Homo sapiens: one gene and its partner. The protein of the gene in region 2 interacts with the protein of the main gene of each other region in a biochemical or structural test. Each region holds a gene or a part of one and is shown on either strand. Other genes may lie near its edges.

The links. Proteins that work in one complex are often made in the same cells at the same time.
Region 1: the proteins of PPL (region 2) and KAZN form a complex in vitro, tested with the Homo sapiens proteins (one study listed by BioGRID).

What each region holds. Positions count from the first base shown.
Region 1 is NC_000001.11:14,601,684-14,605,235, forward strand, and holds part of KAZN (kazrin), read left to right. Parts: intron 1-3,552. UniProt on the Homo sapiens protein: Component of the cornified envelope of keratinocytes. May be involved in the interplay between adherens junctions and desmosomes. The function in the nucleus is not known.
Region 2 is NC_000016.10:4,885,108-4,888,659, reverse strand, and holds part of PPL (periplakin), read left to right. Parts: intron 1-441; coding exon 442-558; intron 559-1,432; coding exon 1,433-1,525; intron 1,526-2,612; coding exon 2,613-3,552. UniProt on the Homo sapiens protein: Component of the cornified envelope of keratinocytes. May link the cornified envelope to desmosomes and intermediate filaments. May act as a localization signal in PKB/AKT-mediated signaling.

The DNA of each region.
Region 1 (3,552 bases), on a different chromosome or scaffold from region 2:
TCAGGGTTTCTGACTGTTCTTCCAAATTAGTCTTGTGTTTTCATTTTGTCTGTGTTGGTGCAGTTCAATGGGCCCAGACCCTAAGAGTGTTTAAGTGCTATTGAGTTATCAGTTTTCAAATCAAGGTTTTGAATAAAACGAGTATCTTTGCATTTCAAAATGCAACCGTGTAAGTCATCTTTTAACGAAAGGGCATTATGCACATATTAAATGCATGCTAATGTAACTTTAACAATATTAGTACAAATGGTTTTGGGAAAGAGTCACCTTTTGCTTCCTCTGCCAAGAGACTGTTAGATTCATTTTCAAATGTTTTTGTTTTTGTTTTTTAAATTCTTTTTTTAAATGAATGAAGCAAACTCATCAATCCATCATTGGCTGTTTTGTTCCAGGGATGACAACGGGCAGTAGGTAGGTTGGTATCCCCTTTTGATGAAGAAAATTTGGGTTTTCCTAGCGGGTTAATGCAGTGTGTCATTTAAACAAAATATTAACTTGGTTGGTACTCCCTGTGAGCTGGCATGGTTGCTATGTAACAGAATCTAGAAAGTGAACTGCTGAAAATCTGGGCTTTCGGCACTTCGGAGGATATTCTTTCGGAATCTGTGTTGAAAGAATTCCTGGCAGCCAGCCCATCTTGTCTCTCCCTCCTGCAACTGAGTTGGATAATCCTTAATGAGAATGCTGGCGTACAGTGCAGAGGGCGTCCGTGCAGGGTGACACATTTCAGAGCTCCAGAGGCTGCCTTTTGGGTCGGTGGGGTCACGGCAGCCTTTGACAGGTGGACAGAAGGAGGCTTGGAAAGAACAGAGCCAAGCATTTGTTCCAATTCATCTTGTTGTTGGTAGCCAGAGAAGGGATTTGTTTAAAGTAACATTTCTAAGCTGTTTTCCTCAGCATAACATCTCTGGGAAAATGTGTTTAAAATGCTTGCTGTTCTTTGAGGGGAAAATGTAGCAGTTTGTTTCTCTGAAAAAGTTTTATCAGCTGATGAATGACTAATATTAGATTCAGTTGGTTGCTTTGCTATGCATAGAACAAAACAATTAAGTGCTATGGTACCCAATTCAAATAGGTGTTAACTGTATATAACAAAATACTTAATGCCCAGTAGGATGTATGCCTACTGTCATTAGTTTTCTTTGTTAAAGAAATAATTGTATTTGTATTCCTATGCAAGTGGACGTGCTGATAGCATCTTTCTTTGGTGTGGAGGACTTCCTGCCTACTGCATTTGTTAGAAGGGGATGGAGGCAAGGGTCGGTTTCCTGTACCTTTGTACATTTCCATAAATGCGTGCAAGTTGTATTTTTCTCTCCAGGCATTAAAATAGGCTGTTACTTAAGGCCTGACAGCTCTCATCTACCATTACTACAACACTGGAAACTCTTTCGTGAAGTATAAATTACCTTTGGAGTGAATTGAATGTGTGAGTAGTCTGTGGAGACGCTAGACACTGTCGCTTTGCAAAGTAAGTTCTGTCTTTTGGCATCCCCTTCTCAATTCATTCTGCCTCTGCTCTTGTTTTCCTAAGTAGACTTTTATCTTTTTTGAGAAAGAGAATTTTCAAATGGCAGAGAGGATGGAACAAAATGTTGGGGAATCTCGGGCCTTCTGTTAGCTTGCCACTAAGTTACAGAGCTCAGCAAGTAGCCTGCGCCATGGTTTTCCAGCCAGATCAAGGGGTTAAAATAGAGTGTGTCTTTTCCTAACCTGTCATGGGATGGGGATTCAGTCTTCTCCCTGAAAATTGTCATGTGTGGTCACAAAGAGATTACTTACAGATCAGTACAGTGTGGTTGAAATTACTTATTGATTGGGGATTATTTACTATCTTTCCATTGTCTTTGGAAAATGCCTTCAAAGGACCTCTTAAGTCAAGTCTCTGATTCTGGTTAATTTCATGCTTCCATTGTGCACTTCATGATTTTTAGTGGTTTTCCAACACCTCTTTGATGCACCCCAGAAGTCTGAGCTGACCTGACTCATCTAACAGGAGCCTGGTCACATATCTTTCCAGGGTAAGGCATGATAGGCCCTCTCTCCATCCCTTTACCCTCTTACTCCTCAAGAAGACTGTTGGCACTTTTTAGGAATCCTATAGGGTTATAATGTGTGACTTCCTGGCTGCCAGTGTGTTTGTAGCAGATGGGCTTGGCAGGTGGCAAGAGCTCATTGGAACTTTGCCTGCTCACCGTGCATATCATATGGGGCCCAGAAGGTCAAGCTTGGGATTTGGCCACATTCACTGCATGTTTTCTTTATGTATTATAAATCTATATATTCATTCCTGGGCTATGTAGGTAAGGACAGTGAAATCAACACGAACTCCTCTGTTCTTTCCATACCTTAATGGTTTGCCTGAACATTGGTCCCTGGCTTCTTACCCCCTGCCATATATCAGGGGGTTCTGCCTGCTGAGCCCAGAGAATGGGTTTTTAAGTGATGTTGCACGTGGAAATAGGTCTCAGTGTTTGGGCTGCATATTAGGGTGAGTAGCACAAAATATGGCAGGAGTGTCACCGCCAGCAGTCATTGCACTGCCTTGGTGCCTTGAATTGCAGGCATAGTGGGTTCAGAAAGAATGATTTAGGAAAAGACATCTTTCCCGAAGCCAACAGGGTGGCCATCCACAGGGGCAGATCATACCTGACGATTCATAGCAGCTAAGAGTTCTGCTGACCCCTGTCACCACTCTCCAGTTCCCCTGCCACCACCCTCCAAATCCCCTGCCAGGCCCATCTCAGTTGTGGAGAAGCTGGAAGAAGATCAGGGAAAGGAACGCCTTCTTCCTCCCCGTGTGGTTGCACGACACCAGAACATTCTTGCTTGTTTGATGCAACCTTGATCCAAGTGGTGGAGGCGAGGTTGTGCTCTGTGGGCACTCCTGCTACCCCCTTGGAGTCCTAGGCTGCTGGAAACATGAAAGAAGCTGAACATAGTTTTAATGAGTTTGGCAAGAACAACTGTTTGAGCAGGTGGCTGCTGTGTGGTACAAGATCATTGGGGCTAAATTTATTCTGCGGGCTTTGTTGGCTGGGTCATGTCAGACCCTTGGGTCAGGCTTCTGAAAGGTCCCTGCCCCTTTACTTTCTGATGAATTGAGACCTCAGCACAGGAGCTCAGATGGAGCTTGGAACAGGCAGTCCTGCAAGCAAAGAGCCCCAGGGCCTCTGCCCACTTCTCCAGTCAGGCTGGAGAGGGGAGAGAAGTTGGGGAGAGGAGGTGTCCTGCCCAGCTCCCTTCTCCTCTGTCCTCTTCCACCACAGCAAGCGCTATGTTACCTTTGTGGGGATGTAAAGGCCTTCCATTCCCAATATTACCTCTGCTCTACAGATTGTGTGAAGTAATGAGTCATTAAGAACAGAGCGCCCCTTTTAAAGAAGCTGATATTCTCCACTCATCTTTGCATACCTCACTATTATTATTCTCAGAACTTACCTTTTGGGCATGCCACAAGACGCTGGGGATTCTGGGACCATCTTGAAGCCTGTAGTTTCTTTCTCTTTGGTCAAGGTGAATAGTTTAATGTAGCAGTAAATGAGAACTGGT
Region 2 (3,552 bases):
ACGCTGGAAAGGACTGGTGTCCAGTGGAAGGGGAAAGCTGCGTGAATCAGCACACATCCACCTGATGGATTATAAAGTCAGCAAGCTGGTAAACATGAGAAGAGGTGGTGGCAAGGTGAGACAGGGTTATGGTACGATGTTAAAAGCAGCAGCAGAATGTGAAAATCTCTAGGCATGTAGAAAGGCTGGGAGGGGAATTCAGGGGGCACTTCTTGTCTCATATGTTACTGAGTGATGGAGCTATGTACTGCTGAGATATCAGTAATTCTCAAAACCTCCTGGAAATCACTGCAGGGTGCAGCTGTGAGGAAGACCCACGCAGATTATAAAACCAGCACATGGCACAGGGCAGGTCTGGGTCAGCCTGAAGGGGTACAGGAACATGTCTGTCTCTTCTCAGCTGTTTTAATCTCCCCTCTGCCATGTCTCTCCCTCATGCAGGACTATGAGTTAGAAGCAGAAAAACTAAGGTCTCTTCTCGACTTGGAGAATGGAAGGAGAAGCCACGTGAGCAAGAGAGCCAGGCTCCAATCTCCTGCCACCAAAGTGAAGGAAGAGGTGAGTTCCATGGGCCAGGCGGCCTCGGGACTGAGGTGGAGGCCAAGCTGCCCTGCTCCCCAGGGAGCATGGTGTCACACGCTGGCCTCAGAGATGCACACACAACAGGGAAGCCACTGAGAGCCCTCCTGCATGCAAACAGGTTTGGTAAGAGATGAGGAACTTGTTCTAGGGCAGTGACATCAATATGCCTAGAAAGACAGCAAGGCCGGGCGCAGTGGCTCACACCTGTAATCCTAGCACTTTGGGAGGCCGAGGTGGGAGAACTGCTTGAGCCCAGGGGTTGGAGACCAGCCTGGGCAACAAAGCAGGACCCCATATCTACAAAAATATTAGCCAGGCGTGGTGGTGCAAACCTGTAGTCCCAGCTACTTGGGAGGTTGAGGAGGGAGGATCACTTGGGCCCAGGAGTTCAAGGCTGCAGTGAGCTACAATCACACCATGGCACTTCAGTCTGAGTGAAAGAGATTCTGTCTTTAAGAAATAAAAATTTTTGAAAATGCAGCTGAACAGAAGTGTCAGGGTCAGAACCATGGATCTGGGAAGTTCCTGTTTTGCTCACCTCAGTAAGTACAGTGGAGGGCTGATATTAGTCTCCTGTACACACAAGAGAGAACACTGGTGCTCTAAGAGGCAGAAAGACTTGCTCAAAGTCAGTGTGGCCAAGACCCTGGCCTGGATCTTCTGCCTCGAGATCCATTTTTCTCTCCACCGGTGAGGCTACAGTCTAACTCCAGGCAGGAGTGGGCAAGAGCTATGCCTCTACCCCCAAATTCCACACTTCTCAAGAACCACGTCCACGCTGTCTAGCTCTCTGTTGCTTACCCTGTTGACACCTGTTTGTTGACCGCTCTCCTAATCCTCTTCTCTGCAGGAAGCAGCACTTGCCGCCAAGTTCACTGAAGTTTATGCCATCAACAGACAGAGGCTGCAGAATCTGGAGTTTGCTCTGAATCTCCTCAGACAGGTAACTGATCTTAGTAAGAAATTCTACTTCAGGCTGTTCTAACAGGTGACAAATACAGACTCTGTCTTAGAGAAATGGTTTGTGAATTGATGGAAGTGTCCCCTTGCTAACGTTTCTGGGCAGGGCCAATGCAAAGACTGGCCCGAGCCAATGCTTCTACTGACATGAGAACTTATTCAACTCAGTAAACATCTGCTGAAAGTGAATGCTATTTTCAGCTGGGCATGGTGGCTCACGCTTGTAATCCCAGCACTTTGGGAGGCCGAGGCAGGCGGATCACCTGAGGTCAGGAGTTCGAGACCAGCCTGGCCAACATGGTAAAACTCCGTCTCTACTAAAAATACAAAAATTAGCTGGGCGTCGTGGCGCATGCTTGTAATCCCAGCTACTCAGGAGACTGAGGCAGGAGAATTGCTTGAACCCAGGAGGTGGAGGTTGCAGGGAGCTGAGACTGTGCCACTGCACTCCAGCCTGGGCAACAGAGCGAGACTCTGTCTCAGAAAAAAAGAAAGAAACAAAAGAAAGTGAATGTTATTTTCTGAAGTCCATGATGTTGATGACAGCATTGTTTTTTAATAGCAAGACACTGGAAGCAGTTCACTCTTCATCAGCAATGGGCTAAACTGCGGTCTGTCCAGAGAGCGGAAACAATGCTGCTGGTAAATCCTGAAGCAGCACTCTCTGTGCTGAGCTGGAATGAGCTCTGTAAGTGCAGTGAGCAGCAGGAATACCATTTGTGCAGGAGAGATAAACACATGGTACATACTACAGACAGATATTCTTGTGTGAGCACAGATAGCATCTGCAAGGCTGACAGACACGCCCTAGGACGGGGACCAGAGGTGGGAGACCGTGGTTTCATTTTAAACTCTTCCACAGCTCAAAAATGTTTTACCTGATTAAAAAAAACCCCAAACTAGTTGTTTGATCCTTTTTGAAAGTAACCCTAGAACTCTACAACTAACATGAACTGGCACTGAGGGAGTCCCTTGGGGACCACAGGACAGCCACTCTGACCAGGTGGGGACAGGCCCTACATGTGCTGCCAGAGCCTGGCTTTAACCTTGTCTTGTCTTCTCCATCACAGCAGCCGGAAGTAGAAGTGACCCATGAGACCCTGCAAAGGAATAGGCCGGACTCTGGAGTGGAGGAGGCGTGGAAGATCAGGAAGGAACTGGATGAGGAGACTGAGCGGAGGCGGCAGCTGGAGAACGAGGTCAAGAGCACCCAGGAAGAAATCTGGACCTTGAGGAATCAGGGGCCTCAGGAATCGGTGGTGAGGAAGGAGGTGCTCAAGAAGGTGCCGGATCCCGTGCTGGAGGAGAGCTTCCAGCAGCTGCAGCGGACGCTGGCAGAGGAGCAGCACAAGAACCAGCTGCTGCAGGAGGAGCTGGAGGCACTGCAGCTGCAGCTGCGTGCCCTGGAGCAGGAGACCAGAGACGGGGGGCAGGAGTACGTGGTCAAGGAGGTCCTGCGCATCGAGCCTGACAGGGCCCAGGCGGATGAGGTCTTGCAGCTGCGGGAGGAGCTGGAGGCACTGAGGCGGCAGAAGGGCGCCCGGGAGGCAGAGGTGCTCCTCCTGCAGCAGCGTGTGGCCGCCCTGGCTGAAGAGAAGAGCCGGGCGCAGGAGAAGGTCACAGAGAAAGAGGTGGTGAAACTGCAGAATGACCCCCAGCTGGAGGCAGAGTACCAGCAGCTGCAGGAGGACCACCAGCGCCAGGACCAGCTCAGGGAGAAGCAGGAGGAGGAGCTGAGCTTCCTCCAGGACAAGCTCAAGAGGCTAGAGAAGGAGCGGGCCATGGCCGAGGGCAAGATCACCGTCAAGGAGGTGCTCAAGGTGGAGAAGGACGCGGCCACCGAGAGGGAGGTCAGCGATCTCACCCGCCAATATGAGGACGAGGCTGCCAAGGCTCGCGCTAGCCAGAGGGAGAAGACGGAGCTGCTCCGAAAGATATGGGCCTTGGAGGAGGAGAACGCCAAAGTGGTGGTGCAGGAGAAGGTGCGGGAGATCGTGCGGCCAGACCCCA